Homo sapiens: one gene and its partners. The protein of the gene in region 3 purifies or fractionates together with the protein of the main gene of each other region. This does not show direct contact. Each region holds a gene or a part of one and is shown on either strand. Other genes may lie near its edges.

Evidence for each region.
Region 1: the proteins of ETFB (region 3) and PLCH1 purify together in Homo sapiens (affinity purification with mass spectrometry; 2 studies listed by BioGRID and IntAct, with this or other methods). This does not show direct contact.
Region 2: the proteins of ETFB (region 3) and AKAP11 purify together in Homo sapiens (affinity purification with mass spectrometry; 2 studies listed by BioGRID and IntAct, with this or other methods). This does not show direct contact.

Annotation. Positions count from the first base shown.
Region 1 is NC_000003.12:155,742,056-155,750,096, reverse strand, and holds the start of PLCH1 (1-phosphatidylinositol 4,5-bisphosphate phosphodiesterase eta-1), read left to right. Parts: upstream 1-5,025; 5' UTR 5,026-5,257; intron 5,258-8,041. UniProt on the Homo sapiens protein: The production of the second messenger molecules diacylglycerol (DAG) and inositol 1,4,5-trisphosphate (IP3) is mediated by calcium-activated phosphatidylinositol-specific phospholipase C enzymes.
Region 2 is NC_000013.11:42,267,274-42,275,243, forward strand, and holds the start of AKAP11 (A-kinase anchor protein 11), read left to right. Parts: upstream 1-4,878; 5' UTR 4,879-4,955; exon of another isoform or gene 4,956-5,488; intron 5,489-7,970. UniProt on the Homo sapiens protein: Binds to type II regulatory subunits of protein kinase A and anchors/targets them.
Region 3 is NC_000019.10:51,349,323-51,356,422, forward strand, and holds part of ETFB (electron transfer flavoprotein subunit beta), read right to left. Parts: intron 5,521-7,100; exon of another isoform or gene 5,317-5,520; coding exon of another isoform or gene 4,987-5,316; coding exon 4,828-4,986; intron 3,969-4,827; coding exon 3,810-3,968; intron 1,070-3,809; coding exon 1,007-1,069; intron 1-1,006. UniProt on the Homo sapiens protein: Heterodimeric electron transfer flavoprotein that accepts electrons from several mitochondrial dehydrogenases, including acyl-CoA dehydrogenases, glutaryl-CoA and sarcosine dehydrogenase.

The DNA of each region.
Region 1 (8,041 bases), on a different chromosome or scaffold from region 3:
ACATGCTTCTTCAGCTGGGGAGGGAAAGATTGGTAGAACTTACAGTTGGCCATTACTACTCCTCTCTCCTCAGTCTCCCATGATGGATTTAGGAAATTCCTCTTCTGATCTACTTTGTAGATTAAGTCATATACATATGAATCAGTATAAAGGTGTTTCTTTCTTTGGCAGCAGATTTAAGAGAGGGCAGCCTAGGGAACATCTATTCTTTTTTTTTTTTTTGAGACGGAGTCTCGCTCTGTCACCCAGGCTGGAGTGCAGTGGCGCGATCTTGGCTCACTGCAACCTCTGCCTCCCGGGTTCAAGCAATTCTCTGCCACAGCCTCCCGAGTAGCTGGGATTACAGGTGCCTGCCACCATGCTTGGCTAATTTTTGTATTTTTAGTAGAGACGGGGTTTTACCATATTAGCCAGGCTGGTCTCGAACTCCTGACCTCATGATCCACCCGCCTCAGCCTCCCAGAGTGCTGGTATTACAGGTGTGAGCCACCGTGCCCAGCCCATATCTATTCTTTTTATTTGCCAGAATCTCTTCCTGCCTTCACTTGGTAGGACCAGCCCCTTTCATCTTGGGAACAAATCCTCCCTGGTTCCAAGCAGTTCTGATGGGCTGCTACTTATAATACCCCGCCTTCCTGGCCATAAGGGTGTGTGTATAATCAGGATCTGGCCACACATATACTCTACTTATTGTTGTCCACAGTAATTGACCTATGGATGGACACATGACCTAAGTCAGGTCAGTTCGAATCCTTTCCTACCATCTTATTTACAGATGGTAAAAGCAAAAAGGCCTCTCTAGCTGAGACGATTGAAACCTGGAGCTGTCTCTAGTCATGCTCTCCCCACCCCCAGCTTGTACAGAAAGCTCATATGGAATAGGAGAGAATAGGATCAAAACACTGAGAAAAGCAGAGACAGGGAAATAGTAGGAGCAAAGGTGAAAGTGTGAGAGTGACAAAAATTCCTTGCTTGGCCAAACAAACATTAGTCATGCTTCTGAGCCTTCTCCTGGGCCCATATGTGCGTTTTCTTGTAAAACTCAGTTTTAGAAAAGAGTTCTGCCAAGTCAGTTTAGCAAGAACCCCCACTCTCCATATCTGATCATTCTCAATATCTGATCAGATCCCTCATCCTCCACTATTGCCCAGGTCATGTCTGATCTCCCTGGCCTGTGTTCAGCAAGAATCCAGTTATGTCGGGTTAGCTAGAGTTCCTCATATTCCTGATGTTTCCTCTTAGTGATTTTTCATCCAGCAACCCCATCTGTTCTTTGTCTATAAATTCCAAGCTGCCTATGCTGTATTCTGCATGAGCTCCTTGCAGTAGTCCCTGTGCCGATTTCGATCGTGCTGGATAAAGCCTTCCTTACCATGCTTTAACACTGACTAATTTTTTCTTTAACAAGAGAAATGCTGATTCTGAATTGCTAGACTCCCACCGTTTCTGAAGTCCTTATCCTTCCCCCTATCTTAAAGTGGGAGTCAATACATCAGCTTTTTTTACTCAAGCTGGTTTGATAAGGGGTTTTGTTATTTGTACCTAAAAGCCGTGACCAATTTGTAGAGTAGGGCCATAAAGACAGGTACTACGCTCTACTTCAGGAGTGCTATCTATATTCCAGCTAAGGCTTACCACCTAGAGCAGTGCCTGGTACATGGCAAGTACTAAAGAAATATGTGTTGAAAGAGGAGTGCCTCTTCCTTGATACGCTTTTTTGGTCAATGGTTTTCTTAACTTGGTGCATTGATTAAAATAGGGAACATTTATCTCCTTTCCTCTCTTGCTCGTGGATATAACTCAAGATGGTTGCTGTTTAAATTTGAACACCTTAAATAAATGGCTCTTTTTGCAACTGGAAGCACAATTTTTGCACAGCTAGAAAAATCTTTTTCCAACACAGAAATTCCCAGTGCAGTTTTCTAAGAAACCCCCTACGATACGCAGCACAGCAGGCTCACCACAAGGCACATCAATCATTTTACTGTGTATCAGGCACCTCTTACAGGATTTTCTGTGATCCTGGTGTCAGTGCACATTCTGTATCAAGGCAGAGATGATATGTAGAAATCTGGCAGCTATTTAGAAGGGAGGCTGGGCAGTGGTGTGCCAGTATAATTAATGAGAGTCATCGCTTAGGAAATGAAGAGGGTGGGGGTTGGGAAGGATGCCTTTCACCATTCAATGGCATTTAAGAAAAATTGATGCTTTCTTAGCACTTTTAATGCTGGGAGGACATTAAGTCAAAGAATCACAGCAAAAGATTTTTGTAACTACTGTACAGATGGATGTCCCTGTGCTTGAAGAGGCAGGGCTAATTCAACCCCAGACTTTTCAGCCAGGCGGATTTCAACCTTGTATTGAGCTACCAGCAGGAGTTCTTTATACTTGGAAAAGTGGTAAATCCTTACTAAAAGATCATAGCTTGCATGACCAAGAGATCCTCTAGAAAAGGTACTTTACTACCATGTAGGATGTTTGTCTTACCTGCCCAAAGAAGTTTTAATGAAGATCTCATTTTCTCCAGTTCCCCTTTAACCAGTGAAAGAGGAGGGTATTATTTGTTTTGTTTTTCTATTTATTCTTTGGTAACCATGGAAGAGTTTGTGTAACCTAGAGAGGCTGCTTATTACCCACTGTCTAATCCCTTTGTTATTATTCCATACTCTGATTGTCACAAGCAGGAAAAATAGTTCTGTCCTGCTTCTAAAAACTTAGCAATGTAACACATTTTCTTGTTTTTAGTGATTTTCTCCAATTAATTAATTAATTGTTTTAGTGATTTTTCTCAGATAAATAATGTTAAAACGACTTGGAGAGAAAAGCTACATTAAAAGATTATGGATGTATAAATGTCCTAAACATTTAAGAACATGCATAATTATGATTCATACCAACTTCAGAATTATTACCTTTGGGAAGGGGTGGGGGTAACGAGTCAGGAGTTGGGGTTTAGCTATATCTGTAATGCTTTATTTAAAAAAGAAGGGCTGGGGGGAGCAGGAGTATTACATGGTATATATCCTGTTTTTGGTAGGTTTGAAATATCACACAATTTAAAAATTTAAAAGTTTACAAAATTATGGGAGTTGATTAAAACTATCAAAATAAAGAATGCATAGCAAACAAGTGCTCTTATTATGAACTTTGTGTCTGAGTTTATTTCAACATGTGCATCTGCATTTTTTCAGACTCAAGAAAGACAAACACCGGAGGTTAGGGGGTGAACTGCTGCTGTTGAGGGATTATCTTGGTGGTTTTTTTTTTTTTTTTTTTTTTTTTGGCTTTTCTATTCACCATGGAGGTTACCAGCAAAACAAATCTCCAACAAGCTTGTTTACAAAATATAAAGCAGTTTGGAGGCAGAGGGTTAATGACTTAATTTCTTATAAATTGAGGCTTGTGTATGGGCATGCAAAAAAACAAAAACAAAAACAAGTAAATTTGGGGAGGTTTCTTTCTATAGAGGCAAAGGACCTTACCTACATTTTTTCCAAATTGATTTCTTCCTGGTACTATTGGCAGGAAGAAATTCAAGTGGGTATTCTGGTGGCTTTTTTCTTTTTTCTGAGAGTCTAGGATTGTTTTCAGGACAAAGTTTCTTCTTGCCCATGGTGCTTTGCTGTGACATTGTAATTGCCTCTGTTGAATTGAATAATACAAATGGGTTGTTTCTATGGTATCGGCTAAGTGGGATGAAAAGGTGAAACCCTAGATCTTGCGCTGAGAGGTCACAGTGCTACCACCCTCCACACTGTCTGTCAAAGAGAACAGGCAGCCAAGGCCCTGAGCTCCAATCTCAGGCACTCATTTGTAACTTACTCGTTTGTAACTTCCTGGGCAAATTCACGCATGAAAAAAGAAAATGACTTTAGTTTATGTTGTCACTAAGCCCAGAAAATCCCTGCCAACCCCATGCTGCCAGCTTTCCTAGGACATTCTTATTGGAGGATTATTTTAAACTGAAAGGTGAGTGAAGAGCTGCGTCCCCACTCCTTCCCAGCCAGGCTTTGAACTAACAATAGGGCAGGTTGAATGAAGGCTGATAAATGTAAATCCTGGAATCCAGAAGCCGGATCACACCGCGGCCGTCTAGGCCAGCGGCGGTTCCAGCATCCGCCCCAAGCTGGTCACTCATCCTTTCAGTGCATTCAGTAGATTTCATCGTTTCATCAACACTTGAGTGCCTGCTTCGTGCAAGCTTTCCTCTGCCACCGCCGCCTTCTTACTCCCGGCAGGTTGCCCGCTTGAGTCAACCAGCCACTAAACGGATCTAAGTGAATAAGTGGCCTGTTAATGCCAAGGAGTAGCATTTCCAAATGAAGAGACTGGGGGTAAATAAAAGCAAAGTGTTACCATTTACACGCTCTCAATTTTAGTTGCACTTCACTCAGAGTAGATCTCTTTAATTTGCGGCATCGACAGATGCTATATTCTTAGAAATTTTTTTTTTTTAAAGGAGGTAAGACGGGCGTTTGAGAACACTTTTTACTTTGGTGCAAGTTGCACGCAGTTCCCATTCACTCAGAGTAGATCTCTTTAATTTGCGGCATCGACAGATGCTATATTCTTAGAAATTTTTTTTTTTTAAAGGAGGTAAGACGGACGTTTGAGAACACTTTTCACTTTGGTGCAAGTTGCACGCAGTTCCCATTCCCTGCGCCCTTCACTTCCAACTTTGTTTCTCCAACTCCTTTACCCCCCACCACCGAGGCCCTCTGGCTACAGCCCCGAGGGGTTACCCTGGGTTTCGAAACTTTTGAAACTTGCGGGGGAGTAAAAGTACTTCATTCCCAGTGCTTCTGGCCCTTGCCAAGCGGGGAGCCCCGCAGGAGAGTGTAAGCCAAGGGTTCCAGGTGCAGCCTTGGGGTTCCACGTGCAGCCCTAGGGTTCCGTACACCCATCCCGCCCGGGCCAGAGGAGGCAGCAGGCGCTCCAGTCCGCTCTCCGCAACTCCAGTTCCTGATTTCCTCGGAAGCTGCGGGGCCGAGAGGGAGGGGGGCTCCTGTGTGAGCGTGAGGATTTGAATGAGAAAGCAGGTTGTGGCGGCGGCGCCCTGCTCTTCCCCGCTCGTCTGGGGCTTCTGCTGGCTAGTGGGGAGAAGTGCTCTTCTAGGGGGGCTTTTCTGGCCCTTGGCAGGGGTTTGGAGTTGGAGTCACAGGGGCCAATAACTCATCACCCCAGCACTTCGGAGGTGGCTCCTTGTGCCACGGACTCCGAGGAGTCCTTCAGCTACTGAACACTCAAAGCTGAGGAGGTCAGTGCTTTCGGGGGAAGAAGGGGCCCAGGAGAGAAGGGGGTGTGCAGGAAAAAGAGAACTGGTACGCCAGTCCGATGAGCGAGTGAGCAGGTGGCCCAAGTTCCTTTCTCGGCAGCCACAGCCGGCACACGCCTGTTTAGGACTGTGAGTGCTGTGCGTGGGGATCCCCTAAGGCCCCGTGCGGGGAACTGGCCACGGCCGCTCTTCAGGGTCCCATAATTCAGAAGGATGAGGGTGGGTGTGTGTGTCCGCGAAATAATGTAACTCTCGGGTCCCTTGCGGTGGTGGTGGGTGGCGTTTCGCCCGGTGGAAGGTCCAGCCTCGCTGCAGGATGCTTCACCCTCACGCGGGGTCCCGGGACCCTCTCTCTGACCGCCAGACGCCGCCAGGAGAGCAGGTCCGCGTTTCCCAGCAAGGGGAGTGCAGCGTCCGTTACACTTGGGGAGTCTCACAGCTTTTCCTGCGCCCGGTGACCCTGCTCAGGACCTCTTAGAGACTAGGTGTGCTCAGCGCGAGGAGGATATACTCCATTGCCCTTTCCTGGGAAGAACCAAGAGCGCCCGAGCGGCGCGGGGTGGTGGAGGCAAACCCCGGCCCCGCGGCGGCACGCTCTGCGCCTGCGCGGCGTTTCCTTGGCGACTGAGCTGCGGGTCCGAGACGCCACCCCGCGAGCCCCTAAACCCAGTTCCCTGTTGAGCGTCTGCGACGCCCTCTCCCCTCCTTCCCGAGGCTTTTTCTATTTGTTTCCTTCTGCGAATCAATTTGTGATCACATTTTGACGTTGAGAGTTCAGCATTAAAGCAATAACCAACTAAATTAAAAAAAAAAACCCAACTTTTCCCTTCCCTTGTTACCGTTTTGATCACGGACAGAAGAAAATGGTGAGAGATTAGTTATTAGGGCAGCAATTGAAATCCCCCTCTGTCCCGAAAAGGGGAGACGAATAAAACATTTACTTCCTGGTAAGGAGTTAGAAAATTCAGTGAAGTGATTGTTCTCGAGCGTTACAAGAACAAATCTGTGCCTCCTAACCCAGGTGAAGAGCAGAGCTTGTACAACCCAGCAGCACCCATGTCCTGTTTATTGGCATGTTTATGACAAGGAGATGCTCTGCAAAAGGGACCAGAGTATAATGCCAATGAAAAGAAACAAAGGATTTCCCAGAAGAGGCGGTAGTTTTTTTCAGTTGCCTCAGCGTTTTGGTCACCTTTGGGGTTAAAGTCTTCTGCAGAGAATGCTTCAAGAAGCCTTAACAGAAGCCAGTTTTCTCAAGCTGGTCATTTTCTTTTTCTTTTTTTCTTTTTTGAGACGGAGTCTGGCTCTGTCGCCCAGGCTGGAGTGCAGTGGTGCGATCTCGGCTCACTGCAACCTCCGCCTCCTGGGTTCAAGCTATTCTCTTGCCTCAGCCTCCCGAGTATCTGGGATTACAGGCTCCCGCCACCACGCCCAGCTATTTTTTGTATTTTTAGTAGAGACGGGGTTTCACCATATTGGCCAGGCTGGTCTGGAACTCCTGACCTCAGGTGATCCACCCACCTCTGCCTCCCAAAGTGTGGGGATCACAGGCGTGAGCCACCGCGCCCAGCAGATGAGAATCATTTTCATTTTCATAAAATTGTGAATCTTGACAGCCCTATCCCCTCTTTTAAAATCCGTTTGTTTACATACAGCCTAGCATTTGGCAAAAGTACACATCTTAAGGGGTATGTAGAAGGAGCGGTAGCTTCTTGCTTATTTTTCTTAAACTGCATCAATATTTGGCAGCATGATTGGTACCTAGTTGCTATTTAACATTGGTTAGAATTAACATAAATGCTAATACAAATTTAAAATGGAGTTATTCTTCTTGGGATAAAGTGTGGCATAAAATACCTTGGATGAAGTAATACGTGAGTACTGTCTCGCTACATACCAGTTTCAAGCAATTTGTTTTCAAGAATAGCAAGTGTTTATTTGTGGTAGATGTTTTAAGATAATATCCTCCCACCATCAGCAAATGAAATCAAACATACCACTTTTCAAATGATTAGCGAGTAACATGCTGTTAAAGTTGTCTCCCATCTCATTTGTCATAAATTCTTAACATTGTGCAATCCATCTAGCTCAAATGTTTAAAAATAAGTCCAACTGAGTTTTTCCCCTTTTCTCATGTTTAGCAAAATAGAAAAACTCTTAATTTTCAGGTTCAGATACTTTGTGACCCTATTTGGTGGCTTGTAACTGGCTCCAATTCCCTAATTCTCAGTGACATGTGTTTCTGCTGGTTCCAGGAGGTAAACTGCAGTTTTAACAGATCATGGGATAATGAGACTGGGAGTACCTGGGGGAGGCTGGGGAGAGGCAATGGGAAGGAGACAAAGAGAGGGAAGGTTGATGGGCAGAGCGAGGATTTATAGTGGCACCAGATTTGCAATAAAATCTGTTTAAAGTTATTGCTTCCGTTTGATATATTTTCCCACATCATCAACTTCAATTAAATTTATTTTAAAAATCAGTCTTTCAGATATAGGGCTAGTATTATAAACATAGAATATGATAAAAGTGCTCCTTGTTAGGGTGCCATAATGTAAAATACTGTGAAAATTCTTAACGAAATGTTTTTTACTTAATTTATTCACTTAGTCAACAAATGTTTATTGAGAACGTATTATATATAAGGCAAGATGAATAAATCCAGATTTCTGTTCTGAATGAACTAAGAGCTGTGAGTCCTGAAATAATTCTAATACCACTTCAGACGTTCAGAGTGAAGATACTACCTTTGGTACTCTTAAGGAGAAC
Region 2 (7,970 bases), on a different chromosome or scaffold from region 3:
ACATAGCACAGATTTGGCTTATAGCATTTATCAGGACTTTACTGAGGACTCCTGACAATACAAATTAAAGAGAATAAAGAATAGTCTGGTAAGACACCCTCCTTCCCCGCTTCTCTTTTTTTGAATAGTTATTGAGTACCTACTATGTGCCTTAGGAACTCCTAAGCAAAAACAGAAACAGCCCTTGCTCATGGATCTCACAGTTCAGTGGAGGAGGGAGACAGACATTAACTAGGTAACCACACAAATAAAAATTGTTATAAGTTGATAAATGCGTTGAAGAAAAAGTAGGGAGTCCTAAGTAAAGGGGATTTACTTAGTCTGGGGAGTTAGGACGAAAGTTCCTGAGGAAGTGACAGTAGAGTTGAAAGGTGAAGGATTCTTGGGCATTCAGCTGTTAACAGGGATGGACAGAGAAAGAATATTGGATCCTGAAGAAACAGCCTGTGGAAGGTGATGAGGCAGGCAGGGTCTGGTCCTATTTTGAGGAACTGAAAAGGGGACAGTCTGAAAGGGAGAATGATATGAAAGCAAAGGAGAAAAGCAGATTATGAGGAAAACCATGAGAAGCCACTGAAGGATTGTAAGCAGGGGAATGGCATGGTCAGATGCAGTAGAAATGGCAGCCCTCTGGAGATAGAGTGCACATACTTCAACCAGCAGGCAAAAAAGACAAATCCTGGAAGCAAAGGAACGGTGCTAGGAGGAGAAATATGAACTCTGTAAATGGGATAAATAGAACGTCTTCTATTTTTTAGAGTATTAAAAAGAATCAGCAACATCCACACAAAATTTGTATAGGAATATTCAAAGCAGTATTATTCATAATAGCCAAAAAGTAGAAACAACTGAATTGTCTGTCAACTGATAAGTTGGCCAATAAAACTGTGCTATATACATAGAATGGAACTGTTATTCGGCAATAAAAAATAAATGAAGTACTGATACACGCTTCAACATGGATGATCCTTTAACACATGCTAAATGAACGAAGTGAGACCCAAGAGACCATGTATTGTATGACTCCATTTATATGAACTGTCCAGAATAGGCAAGTCTTTTTTATTTTTTATTTTATTTTTATTATACTTTAAGTTCTAAGGTACATGTGCACAACATGTTACAGAGGTATACATGTGCCATGTTGGTTTGCTGCACCCATCAACTTGTCATTTACATTAGGTATTTCTCCTAATGCTATCCCTCCCCCAGCCCCCCAACCCCCTACAGGCCCCGGTGTGCGATGTTCCCCGCCTTGTGTCCTGTGTCCATGTGTTCTCATTGTTCAACTCCCATCTATGAGTGAGAACATGCGGTGTTTGGTTTTCTGTCCTTGTGATAGTTTGCTTAGAATGATGGTTTCCACCTTCAGAATAGGCAAGTCTTTATAGACATAAAGTTGATTGGCTGCTACTGAGTATGTGAGTTTCTTTTAGGGAGGAACAAAACTTCTAAAATTAGATTTTGATGACAGTTGCACAACTGTAAATCTACCAGAAGCACTGAATTGTATGGTAAATGGATTACATCTCAGTAAAACTGTTAAAAAACACAGTTTTAAAAAGAATCCAGGAACTGGGGACACAGCAGAACTGGATCTCAATCCTAATTTTTTCTCACTTTGTATTAATGTACTGCAAATAATTGTAGCTAGCACAAGAGAGCACAATGACTGTCTTGCTAAGGTGAGTTGGGAGGATTTATTTCGGGCTCTGTTAATACATGTTCGATTGGGAGAGTTGGGCCCAGAGTTCATCTAAATTAGTAGTACCAAGCAGCTGTTTCAGTTAATCATTATGAGGGCTGTAAACACTCAAAAAATACTCAATTAACATTTTAAAAGAATGGTCCTACTTTGTTAAAATAGTACTTTTTCTCTTTTTGGCGTTTTTCCTTTTAAAAAGTAGCCCTATGTATCTTGAAATCTTGCTTTCGTTAAAATTAAGGTGTTAGCTTAACTTTAGGATATTGCCTCAGACCTTTTAAAAAATGTATTTGCTATCTAGTTCTTAAACTCTGATTAGGAACACATGAATCATTATTTAATACTACACAGGTTCAAAATAGCTTAAGAGAGATGGAATTCGAGGTTGAGCAGGTGGCGGTGTTTCCGTTTTCACACTCTGAGAAGGCCAAGGTTTCTTAGGGAAGCATTCCTGGTATCTGTATCAACCGTTTTCAGAGTTATTCAGCTGGTGTGTGTGTGTCTAATTTCATTTGGGTTGAGCCGCTGACTCTGTTAGGTTTTCATAAAAAATCATTTCATTTCCCTTTCCAGCTTCCGTCCTACTGGTATGTGCATGTTAAAGTGTAATTCAGGCTTAACTACTTTAGGTGTAGGCTAGTTACATTGCTTTGTTTTATGTATGAGGAAGCTGAGACTCAGTGGTGATAAGGAACCTTGATTTGGTTGTATCACTAATGACAGAGCTTCGAGTTGGAACTCATCTCCTGATTCGTTTCTTTTGGTGAAACATCCTCTTGATTTCTGAGCTTTCAACCTCTATCTTTTCAAATCTTACACTAAAGAATAAGTATCTGCGTAGAATTTCATTTTCTGTTCCCAGAATTGACTTTAAGAATAGACAGAAGAGGTGGTTGTCAGTGTAGCATAATGGAGGGAAAAAAATTAAAGATGGGCCCTTCCTTTTCAGCCATTTGTTTTCCCCCAGGTAACAAAAGAAAATCCTCCATTTTATTTTTCCTAGTAATTAGGAGAAATCCACATGTTTCAACAAAGGCAGAAACAGCATGAGGACTCTGACCTAATGGATTTTAGAAATGTTGAGATCATAGGAAATTAAATTAAATTTCATGACTGTCTCTCACCTGGCCTATAAATCTCCTAATCTCCCTTACTTCTGCTTTGGCCTCTTTAAGACCCATTCTTTTCAAAGACGAGACTTTTTTTTTTTAAAAAAAAGTAAACTCTGGGTGTCTCTCCCCTATTAAAAACTCTGTAATACCTTATATTGCGTTTAGAATAAACTTTCAATTCCTTTCTTGGCTAACAAAGCCTTACAGGATCTGGCCCATGCTAGTTTCTGACAGAGCAAGAGCATCACCATCTTGGACAAGCACCGCCATTTTAAGTTCCCCTTGATTAAAAACCGCCTAAATCCAGCCCCAGAAACATCAGCCTAATGGCTAATGTCAGCATGACCATAAACCACAAATAACACTTCTGACCAGAAACTTTCCAACCCTGAGATAAACCCCACTCTGATCAGAAATATGCCTCCCCTCCAACCAGAGACATTACACCCCTGACAATAAAACTCTCCTCCACCCAGAAACATTCCAAGTCTACAATATGCTCTCCCTCCCTAAACCACTAAATACCTTTAGTCTGTAAGAGAGAACACTCCTGACCGAAATCGGCCAGAAGCCCCTCTCAGGTTTATTCTCCAAAATAAACCTGTCTCTGTTAAGCTGCTTTTTGTGTTTCTTTCTTTAACTCTTACAGTTTCCATCTCCAGGCTCAAGAAAGTTTACTTTCTCATTTCTTCTTCCCTCAAATGCACTAGAATAGATCCTTACTTAGGGCCTTTGAATTAGTGTTATCCTTTTCCTGGAATGCTCTATGCTCTGATTTTTGCGTCTGTTATTCAAATCGCTGCTAAAATATCTCCTCCTTAAAAGGGCATCCCCTTTACTAGCCACTCAGTCACCATCACCATCACGTCACTTATTGTAACTTCTTTGCATACAGCTTAAAACCAACAGATTTTTTTTCTTTTCACCCTCAGATAAGTTCCCTAGAATCTACACTACTTGTCTTCATCATTGTTCAATCAACAGCCTAGAGTAGTGTTTGTTGAATGAAGAAATGAACAAACGAATGCACCCTTTCTTCCGTGACCCTCTCCTCTGAACAGGGCAAAACTTAACTCATAACGAGGATACACTCAAAAATGTCTTTCTTATTGCCAGGTGTTTCCACTCTTGAGGAACAGATGCCCTTTAGGAGACAGGGCAATTTGACTGGACTGGCCCTTCCGATTTTAGGTGAAAATAATCACCATAACAGCTTTTCATCTCTGGCTAGGCTTCCCAGTGACCAAAGCTTTACTTTCCGATTTCCATACCACGTAAAGACATCAGGGTGAGCACTAGGGCCCTGAGAACCCTGGAAGCTACTTCTTGGCTGGGATAGGGCTGGTTGCCCGGTGCGCTGTGAGTGGTCCTCCCCGGAGATGCTGGGAGAAGGGGCGGAGCCATCAGAAAGGATGAGCCTTCCTTGGGCCTTCGGATCTGGTGGGGCTGCCACTTTGGGAAGGGCCCCGGGCTTCGGAAGAAAGCAAAACTAGCCTTGTGGCGAAGAAGGAGCCCAGCTGGCCCCAGGCTGTTAAGACTAAGGGGTCGAGGGAAAAGAGGCAGAGCCTGAAACCAAATCTGCGGAGCAAGCCAAGGCCTGGGGACTTGCCAGAGGGAAGGGTTAAGCCGTTTCCAAGGCAACGGACCAGGAAGCGCGCAAGACGTCCGCCGCAGGTTCGTAGGTCGCCCTCGAATTTAAAGCTCCCAAGGCTGAGTGGGTCCCGGCCAATGGAGAGGCCCCCTTTAAGTCATGTGACCAGCGGGGCTGCCCCGCGGGCTGCTCCGCGGGCTGCACTGGAGCACGTGGGAAGGCTTTTTTTCCTGTTCCTTCTTTCCCTTTTTAAACGCCCACCCACTTTTGCGCGGGCTCGGCCGCGGAATTTTTCTCGCGAGAGGCGCGCTGCCCTCTCGCGAGAGAGAGTGGGAGGCGTGGAGAGTAGGCGGTGTTGCGGGCCGGAGCTGCGGCGGCGGCGGCGGCGGCGGAAGCCGAGGGGTGGGCAGGGCGGGGGCGGGCCGCGGGGCTGGGAGGGGGAGGGCTGGGGGTCAGCGCGGGAGGGGGCCAGCTTGCTTGCCCGGCTCGCTCACGGGTCGTTGAGGCCGGTGACATGTCTGTGAGCTGCGGAGGCTGCGGCCCCCAGGTGAGCCGGGCGCCGACGTGCTCGCCGCGGAGGCTGCGTTTAGATGGGGTGGCGGCGGGTGTGCGGCCGGCATGGATGGAGCGGCCCGGCTCCGGCGCTCCAGCCCCTCCGCCTGCCGCTGGTCCCCCTTCTGGCTTCGGGGCCGCCCGAGAGCTGCGCCTTCGCATGGCGGAGGGAGGAGGGCGGGAGGAGCGCGGCCGAAGGAGGAAACTCACCGCACCGGGCCCAGAGTAGAGGGAGGTGCTGGGTCTCGAGACGCGTCTTCCTGGGGTCCCAAGTGTGGCGGTGGAGCTGCCGCCCCTTTTAATGACAGGCTGTTTCCATCCCCGGGGTGGTCTTCAGAGACGGCCCCCCGGGTGCGTGGTGCGCGTGCTTAGTGTGTGTTCGTGGTGTGCGCACAGGAACATTTGCAGCGGTTGGGAGGACGTTGCACTTTGTTCCCGAACAGCATCCTTCACTGTCAGACCCCCGGAGCCTTGGAAGCAGGCGCTGCTCAGATCTTGTAAACGGAAGGCGTCAAGGGGCTCCTCAGAGTATTGATATTTGGATTTGCTGTCAAATACTCTCCTAGGCTGTTAATGGCTTAAGGCTGGCCATAAAGTACCCCGAATGGATTGAGTATACTGCTGTTAATCCAGGCATCTAAGCTGCTTTATAAAAAATATGTAGATGTAACCGAAGTATTAAAAAGTGACAATGACAGTAAAAGCTAACATTTTTTCTCTTCCCCATATTACCAGCTTTCATTTTTTTTCTCTGCTTTGTCTGTCTTCTAAAACCATATAAAGTTGGATGTGGTTTAGCTTTAGATGTTAAGGAGTTTCATGGTGAGAAAGACTGCTGAGATACATACCTAATAGCTTTAGTACAAACTGGAGTTAATTCCTGTTCTCTTTTCAGCTTTTCAATCGCTTGCAAAATGCTCGTTTTGCTTAGCTGCTTCCCACTGTTTTAGAAATGTCATGTCGATTGTTATTTTGTTATGTCTGAAAATACTCAAAATATGGAGTACTAAGAAAAAATGGGGTATCAGTAATGCACAGATATATTTTTTTTAATGTCATCATTTTAGGATGGCAGCCCAGTGCCTGGCATGATTGGTGTCAGTTAAAATAGTGCAATTGAATGATTTTTTTTTTTTTTGAAAAACACATTTACTTTTTCAAACGGTACCCTGATTATTCATTTTTTCTTGTCGTTGTTCCTCCTGACAAAACTGACCCAGGGGTGGACAGTGAATGTCACTATTGTAGCTGTAACAGTAATTTATGAAAGGTCAAAGAATGTAAGGAAATCAGGGAAGAAGTGGGTTCCCAAGCTGAGCTAGAGACTAATGTATGTACCCACATAACTGCAGTATCGACAATATTGATAAGGGCCTAGCAGTGGACTCCTAGGCCAGTGATATTTTGCAGTTGTTGAGGATATGGGAAGTTGCCTAAGACATGGAACCATAGTGAGAAATTCTCTAGCCTTCTCTAGCCCCCTGAACTCCAGGGATAAGTCTAGAAGCTGAAGAAGTCCTCTTTTGCCTTTAGAGGCTGGAAAAAATACGGTACTTTTAATTTTTTTATTTTTTAATTTTAGGAACTTACTGTCTGGAAAAGGAACTCAAACCAATTTGGACAATATATTAAAGGCCGTTTTAAGAGAAAATGCCAGTTGTAAATAGGTAGAGGAATTCTGTCTATACGTGACAAAAATGTGAAAGACTTAGAAAATATCTCTTTGTGAATGGGCAGAGGAGACCAGTGTTGATTAGAAAAAATTCCTTCTTACTCCATCTTAGCAAACTAATTTTCAGAAGTAGAAAAATAAATTTTTTGGCTGGTCTTCATAACCTTTTGGCAAGGGTTTCAAACTTGTAGGGCGTGTGGTGTTTGGTTTTTCAAAAGTAATTGAAGTAACTTTGGATAGGGTAACTGATTTTGTTTTTTTTCCTGTCTTGTGGTCTGCATTTTATTAATCAACTACCTGGAAGGATTGAAGGGTGAGGACAGGTCGAGAAAAGCTTTAAGTTAAGCCTGGGCATGAGTTAAGGGTCAATGAGCTGGTAATATGGGGAAGAGAAAGAAAAATGCTTTATCAGTTTAAAAACAGCCTGGAAAGATCCAAGTGTCTCGATTCTCCCAGTCATCCTTACATATAAAAGTTTATTAAAAAAATACTTCTGGGCCAGGCTTGGTGCCTTACACTTGTAATCCCAGGACTTTAGGAGGCTGAGGCGGGTGGATCACTTGAGACCAGGAGTTCAAGACCAGCCTGGCCAACATGGAAAAACCCTGTCTTTACTAAAAAATAAAAAATTAGCCACGTGTTATGGCACATGCCTGTAATCCCATCTAGTCGAGAGGCTGAGGCACAAGAATCGCTTGAGCCTGAGAGATGGGAGATTGCAGTGAGCCGAGATCGTGCCACTGCACTCCACCCTGGGCGACTGAGTGAGACTCTGCCTCAAAAAACAACAACAAAAAACTTCTGGAGTAAAGGCATTTGAAATTTGTAGATTAGAGACTGGACATGGTAAAAGGAGAAAAGTTATCATTTTTAGAATAATCTGAGAATGTTTCTTGGGAAATAAATGGGGTAGAGGCCTGGAACAGAGAGGATGTTACTTGACTGAAAATGAGGTATATTGTAAAGAGTTTCGGTTTGGGAGTCAGGTCTATTAATTAAATGAGCCTCATTTTCTTCATACCCACCTCAAAAAGTTAGTGCGAAGCACATAGTAGCTGCTTACTCAGTGTTTTTATTTTTACCTCCCGTAATGGTTTGAGGATTCTTTGATTGCAAGGAAGAAAAAGCCAATTTAATTAGCCTACTTAAAAAAAAAGCATTTGTCATACAGTGCTGCTGAAGTCCATTGCATGATTCCAATTCAGCGTTTTGGGAACCAGAAAGTCTTCAGGCAGTTACTCTTCCAGTTTTTCTCTGGAAGCACATGGTCTTATGTCTCTGCTACTCACGCAGGTCTGTTCCAGTTTCTTTCAGATTGGCCTTCTCTTTAAAGCTCTT
Region 3 (7,100 bases):
GTTGATTACATGTTAAAATAATATTTTAGATATAATGGGGTGAAATAAAATATAATTTTGTCTGTTTCTTTTTACTTTTTTATGTAGCTGTGAAAAATTTTAAATTTGTCTATGTGCCTTGCTTCTTTTTTTTTTTTTCTTTTGAGACAGGGTTTCCCTCTTTCACCTAGGCTGGAGTACAGTGGTATGATCACAGCTCACTGCAGTCTTGACCTCCTGAACTCAAGGGATCCTCCCACCTCAGCCTCCTGAGGCTGGTACTACAGGCATGTGCCATCACACCCAGCTAACTTTTCTTTTTTGGTAGAGATGGGGTCTAACTATGTTGCCAAGGCTGGTCTCGAACTCCTGGGCTCAAGTAATCCTCCCACCGTGGCCTCCCAAAGTGCTAGGACTACAGGTGTGAGCCACTGTGCCAAGCCTGCATTTCTTTTTTCTTTTTTTGAGACGGAGCCTCCCTCTGTTGCCAGGCTGGAGTGCAGTGGCGTGCGATCTTGCCTCACTGTAACCTCCGCCTCCCAAGTTCAAGCAATTCTCCCTCAGCCCCCTGAGTAGCTGAGACTACAGGCGCACGCCACCACACCCAGCTAATTTTTAAATTTTTAGTGGAGACGAGGTTTCAACATGTTGACCAGGCTGGTCTCAAACTCCTCCTGACCTCAAGTAATCCACCTGCCTCGGCCTCCCAAAGTGCTGGGATTACAGGCATGACTCACCATGCCTGGCCCCAGCCTGCATTTCTATTGGACTGGCAGAGATGGGGACTGGGGAACCTAGAGTTGAGCGGGTGGGCATGAGTATTTCACGTAGGATGGCAAGGAAGGCCCCTTTGAAGAGGTGATACCTCAGCAGAGACCTCAAGGAGGGGAACAAGAAAGCCATGAGGCAATCCGAGGGAACAGTGTTCCAGGAGGAGAGAACAGCAAATGCAAAGGCCTTGAGGCAGAAATGAAGTTTGAGGGATGAGGGCCTGGCCCTCAGCAGGTGCTCCCCACTCCAGTCTCACCTGTGGCCAGTCAAGAAATCCAGCTGTCATCTGCCCTGTCTGGTTACAGTCATCATCGATGGCCTGAATGGGGAGAGACAGAAGACTGTATGACAATCAGTGGAGCTCATGGACCATTCAGGCCTCTGTCTAGAACAGGGGTTGGCAAACTTTTTCTTTCTTTTTTTTCTTTTTGAGACGGAGTCTTGCTCTGTCACCCAGGCTGGAGTGCAATGGTACAATCTTGGCTCACTGCAACCTCCGCCTCTTGGGTTCAAGCAATTCTCCTGCCTCAGCCTCCTGAGTAGCTGGGATTACAGGCACCCAACACCACGCCCAGCTAATTTTTGTATTTTCAGTAGAGACAGGGTTTCAACATGTTGGCCAGGCTGGTCTTGAACTGCTGACCTCAGATGATCCCCCAAAGCTCTGGGATTACAGGCATGAGTCACCGCAGCCAGTCGGGTTGGCAAACCTTTTCTATGGTGGAACAGATGTAGTAAATATCTCAGGCTCTGCAGGTCATACGGTCTCTGTCACGGTGACTCAGCGCTGCTGTTGTAGCACACAGGCAGCCATAAATAATATGTAAATGAATGTATGTGGTGATGTTCCAATAAAGCTTTATTTACAAATCAGAGGTCGCTCTGGGCCATAGTTCACTGACTTTTGGTCTAGAACGATCCCCTCACTTGGGCCCAGAGATAAGCAGCCACTTGTCCAGGGACATGTGGGGCCACCTGGCATCCCTGTCGTCAAGTCTCTGCCCTCTGTATAAAGCCTCTCAGGAGTCCCACCCTATGTGGCCCCTGGGCAGCTGCATGAACAGGGTCTGGGCCAGCAAGGACATTCTAGCCCCAGCCCAGTGATTGGTTCAGGGAGGGGCACATGACTCAAGCTGCACCAAAGAAGAGTCAGCCCTGGGAGTTTGCTGGGGCCCTTGGGAAAGATGCTCCTTTCTTTCTGCTGGGGTCACTGGGCTGGTGGGATCTGAGCCTGGAGATGCAGACAGTGAAGACAAGGTAGAGGGGAGCCTACAGCTCATATGTGACCCTGGATCAAGCTGTGCCTGAAGCCCCTGATTTACGTGAGATAATAAATTCGCTTTCTGGCTTAAGCCAGTTTGAGTTGTGAATCTGCTTCCTAGAACAAACAGCATCCTGACCAGTTCATCCGGCATTTCCCCAGCTGGAGGCCCTGGCCCCAGGAACTGTCCCTGGCCCAGGACAGGTAGGACATCGGAGTCTGAGAACGACCAGCAAATGCAGGGGGCTGCAAAGGCCATGCTTCCAGCACCTCGGCCTCTGCAGCCCCACCCAGGCCCTGCCTTTTTGGCCTGTTCTCCGGGTAGGCCCTTCGGCCACAGTTGACTGATCTGTACTCTGATGCCCCTGCTGTTGATAATCTCTCTCTGTTTTCTTCTGACTTTCTCAGGGCTGGGCAGGACACCCAGTGACCTACCTGGACCCATCAGCCTCCTCTTTGTCCCAGAACTGACCTGGCCCTGGGATCCCCATCTCTCTCCGGGGGCCCCAGCTCTACCTGAGCCTGCTGTGCTCTGCTGTCTCCGTGCTCTGCTTGACATACCTTGCAGTCTTTGGCCTTCCTTCTCAGCCTCATCCCTAATTCCCTGCCTCTTCTCACTCCCATCTGCCTGTGGCTCTTCTGACGTCCCTCTTCTGCCCCTTCCCTGGTTGAGGCCATGAGGTTTGCCCTCAAATGAGATGAGCTACCCCTGAGCAGAGGTGGTGCCCGAGGGTCTCCTGGGGGAACAGATGAGCTCCATGTACCCCTATCTCAGTGGGGAGCACCAGTGTGGCAGGGAAGGTTCTGGTCGGGTCCTCACCCAGCCCTAACCTCCTTCCCTAACTCCTGGCCTCCAATTTCCCATTCCAGTCCATTCTCAAAGCCCAGGGGGGCTCTTTCTGCACCTAGTGCTGATCCCACCCCTCTTCTGCTCATAGAACTCCCATAGCTCCCCAGTGCCCTCCAAAATTCTCAAGTCTTTGTTTCAAGCCCAGGCCTGTCTCCTGAACCTGCATCGATGTCTCCTGGGCTCTTCACACTCCCCTTGTAGGATCCTCCTCTAACCTCCTGTTCTTCCTGGGTTTCCTACCTGTGTTACCAAGGCAGACCCAGGCACTGTCCTTGCCTCCTCCCTGCCCTCCCTCCCCATGCTAAGCCCAGTCTCTCCTGCCACATCATGTCTCTGCTCTGTCCTGTCACCTTTGGCTGAGGCCTCATTCTCCCCCATGTGACCATCACCTCGGCCTCCCAGCCTCTAAACTCACCCAAAAGGATCTTTCTTCTTTTTTTCTTTTTGAGACAGAGTCTCGCTCTGCTCCCAGGCAGGAGTGCAGTGGTGCCTGGAGTGCAGTGGTGCGATCTTGTATCACTGCAACCTCCGCCTCCCAGGTTCCAGTGATTCTCATGCCTCAGCCTCCCAAGTAGCTGGGATTACAGGCAGGTGATACCACACCCGGCTAATTTTTATATTTTTAGAAGAGATGGGGTTTCACCATGTTGGCCACGCTAATCTCAAACTCTCGACCTCAAGTGATCCACTGGCCTCGGCCTCCCAAAGTGCTGAGATTACAGGCGTAAACCACCGTGCCTGGCCCAAGAGGATCTTTCTAACACCCAGAGGGACTCTGTCCTCCCTGCTCAAACTCTCTGTCAGAAGGGTCAGCAAAGTCCCAAGCTGCTCAGCCTGGAGTGGTGAATGCCCTGGGCCTGGCCAGCTGCTGTCTCACCCCGTATCTCCACCACCCTCCTCCCGAGCAGGGATGAGCAAGGGGGCACAGGGAGGGCTGACCACAGCTACCTGTTTGCCCAGCAGCACCAGGTCCACCTTCTCCTTCTCTGCCAGCTTGGCCAGGACCCGAGCCACCTGCAGGGGACCCAAGCGTTCTGCTTCTGCTGGGGGCACCTCCACGTGGATACCTCGGTCTGCACCCATGGCCAGGGCGGTACGAATCGTCTCCTGCCAAGGACAGAGGGGCTTGACTTGGCTGCTATCCTCAGGGGGACCTAGGAGTCTGGCTCGCAGCCCCTCCTTCCTCAGACCCAGGAGTCCAGGGCCCCATCCCCTCCTTCCTCAGACCCAGGAGTCCAGGCCCCCATCCCCTCCTTCCTCAGACCCAGGAGTCCGGGCCCCCATCCCCTCCTTCCTCAGACCCAGGAGTCCGGGCCCCCATCCCCTCCTTCCTCAGACCCAGGAGTCCGGGCCCCCATCCCCTCCTTCCTCAGACCCAGGAGTCCGGGCCCCCATCCCCTCCTTCCTCAGACCCAGGAGTCCGGGCCCCCATCCCCTCCTTCCTCAGACCCAGGAGTCCGGGCCCCCATCCCCTCCTTCTTCAGACCCAGGAGTCCAGGCCCCCATCCCCTCCTTCCTCAGACCCAGGAATCCAGGCTATCAGCCCATCCTCCCTCAGACCCAGGGGTCCAGACTTCCAGCCTCCTCCTCCCTCAGACCCAGGAGTCCAGGTCCCAGCCCCTCCTTCCTCAGACCCAGGAGTCCAGGGCCCCATCCCCTCCTTCCTCAGACCCAGGAATCCAGGCCCCCATCCCCTTCTTCCTCAGACCCAGGAGTCCAGGGCCCCATCCCCTCCTTCCTCAGACCCAAGAGTCCAGGCCCCCAGCCCCTCCTTCCTCAGACCCAGGAGTCCAGGCCCCCATCCCCTTCTTCCTCAGACCCAGGAATCCAGGCTATCAGCCCATCCTCCCTCAGACCCAGGGGTCCAGACTTCCAGCCTCCTCCTCCCTCAGACCCAGGAGTCCAGGTCCCAGCCCCTCCTCCGTCAGACCCAGGAGTCCAGCCCCCTCCCCAAGACCTTCATCACCTGGCACTGTGCAGGCCCACAGCTGACGGCGATGACCTCCTTCACCAGCTTCTTCTCCTTGAGCCGCACAGCCTCCTCCACCGCGATCTCACAGAAGGGGTTCATGGAGTGCTTCACACCATCCGTGACCACACCGGTCCTGTCAGGCTTCACTCGGATCTGCCCAGCAGGAGGGGAAGGGGTGGGGTCAGGAGGAAACAGGCAAGAAGGTGGGGGCCTCAGCGCCAACCCTCTCCCAGGCTGGATGAGGACAACGACAGCCTGGAAAGGGGCAGGGCCTTGTCCGGGGTCACACAGCTCCAGGGACAGAACTGGGTTAGAGTTTGTAGGCAGGGGCAGGTCACCCTGTCTCCTTCTCTCATCCAGCCATTCCTGGGTACCAGGGACATCTGACTTGATCATCCCTACTGTTGTCACTGCTCCTCTCAGGCCTGAAAGAGTGTTTCTCAAATTTACAGTATTTATGGTAACCCACAGTGAGAGGTACATTTTACTGTATCTCCAAGTGTATATAAATACATAATACACTGATACATAAATACAAATGAGGAGAAGAAAAGGAAAAACCAGTTAGGTAGACAGTTAAGGGTGGTCCTCAGAGGAGCAGCCTGCCTGAAAAATCACAGCTACAGGCAACAATAGAGCAGCCTGGGGAAAACTCAAGCTGCCCAGCACAGAAGCCTTTTGTTCTTTGCGTGACTGACAGGCTCCCAGGAAAAGTTCCCTCCCCTTTTCAGGCACGTACATGGTGGTCTCTGTGGGAACTTGCACGGGGAGGGGCGGAGCTTACCTAAAACAAACCCACGGTTACAGAAACAAGAGAAGCGGAGCTTTGTGCTTGCCTAAAGACGTACCCACAACTACATAGATAACGGAGAGTTATGCAGATAGCTTTACAGATAAGATACTCAAACAGCTACAGAGATGAAAGGAGTTTCTTATAAAAGCTTTTGGTGTCTTTTGCTGTGCAGAAGCTCTTTAGTTTAACCATCAGAGTGAACAGGCAACCTACAGAATGGGAGAAAATTTTTGCAGCCTACTCATCTGACAAATGGCTAATATCCAGAATCTACAATGAACTCAAACAAATGTACAAGAAAAAAACAAACAACCCCATCAAAAAGTGGGCGAAGGATATGAATAGACACTTCTCAAAAGAAGACATTTATGCAGCCAAAAAACACATGAAAAATGCTCATCATCACTGGCCATCAGAGAAATGCAAATCAAAATCACAATGAGATACCGTCTCACACCAGTTAGAACGGCGATCATTAAAAAGTCAGGAAAGAACAGGTGCTGGAGAGGATGTGGAGAAAAAGGAACACTTTTACACTGTTGGTGGGACTGTAAACTAGTTCAACCATTGTGGAAGTCGGTGTGGTGATTCCTCAGGGATCTAGAACTAGAAATACCATTTGACCCAGCCATCCTATTACTGGGTATATACCCAAAGGATTATAAATCATGCTGCTATAAAGACACATGCACACATATGTTTATTGCGGCACTATTCACAATAGTAAAGACTTGGAACCAACCCAAATGTCCAACAATGATAGACTGGATTAAGAAAATGTGGCACATATACACCATGGAATACTATGCAGCCATAAACAATGATGAGTTCATGTCCTTTGTAGGGACATGGATGAAGCTGGAAACCATCATTCTCAGCAAACTATCGCAAGGACAGAAAACCAAACAACGCATGTTCTCACTCATAGGTGGGAATTGAACAATGAGAACACATGGACACAGGAAGGGGAACATCACACACCGGGGACTGTCGTGGGGTGGGGGGAGGGGGGAGGGATAGCATTAGGAGATATACCTAATGCTAAAGGACGAGTTACTGGGTGCAGCACACCAACATGGCACATATAAACACATGTAACAAACCTGTACGTTGTGCACATGTATCCTAAAACTTAAAGTATAATAATAAAAAATAAATAAATAAATAATTTTTTAAAAAAAAAGCTTTTGGAATCAACTGTAAAAATGGCAACCCGCTTGGGCTTCCCTCTCCTCTGTGGAGAGCTTTCTTCTTTTGCTTATTAAACTTTCGCTCCAACCTCACCTTTTGGGTGGTCTATGCTCTTTAATTCTCTTGGTTGTGAAACGAGCTCGGATAACACCTTAGACAACGTGACCAGTGACCCTGACCTATTTCACAAATGCCACTGCAGTGTAAGGGTCAGTGACCAATACTGACCCTGCCTACACACACACCATACTCTGACATTTTCTACCCTTTTTCGGAAAAATGC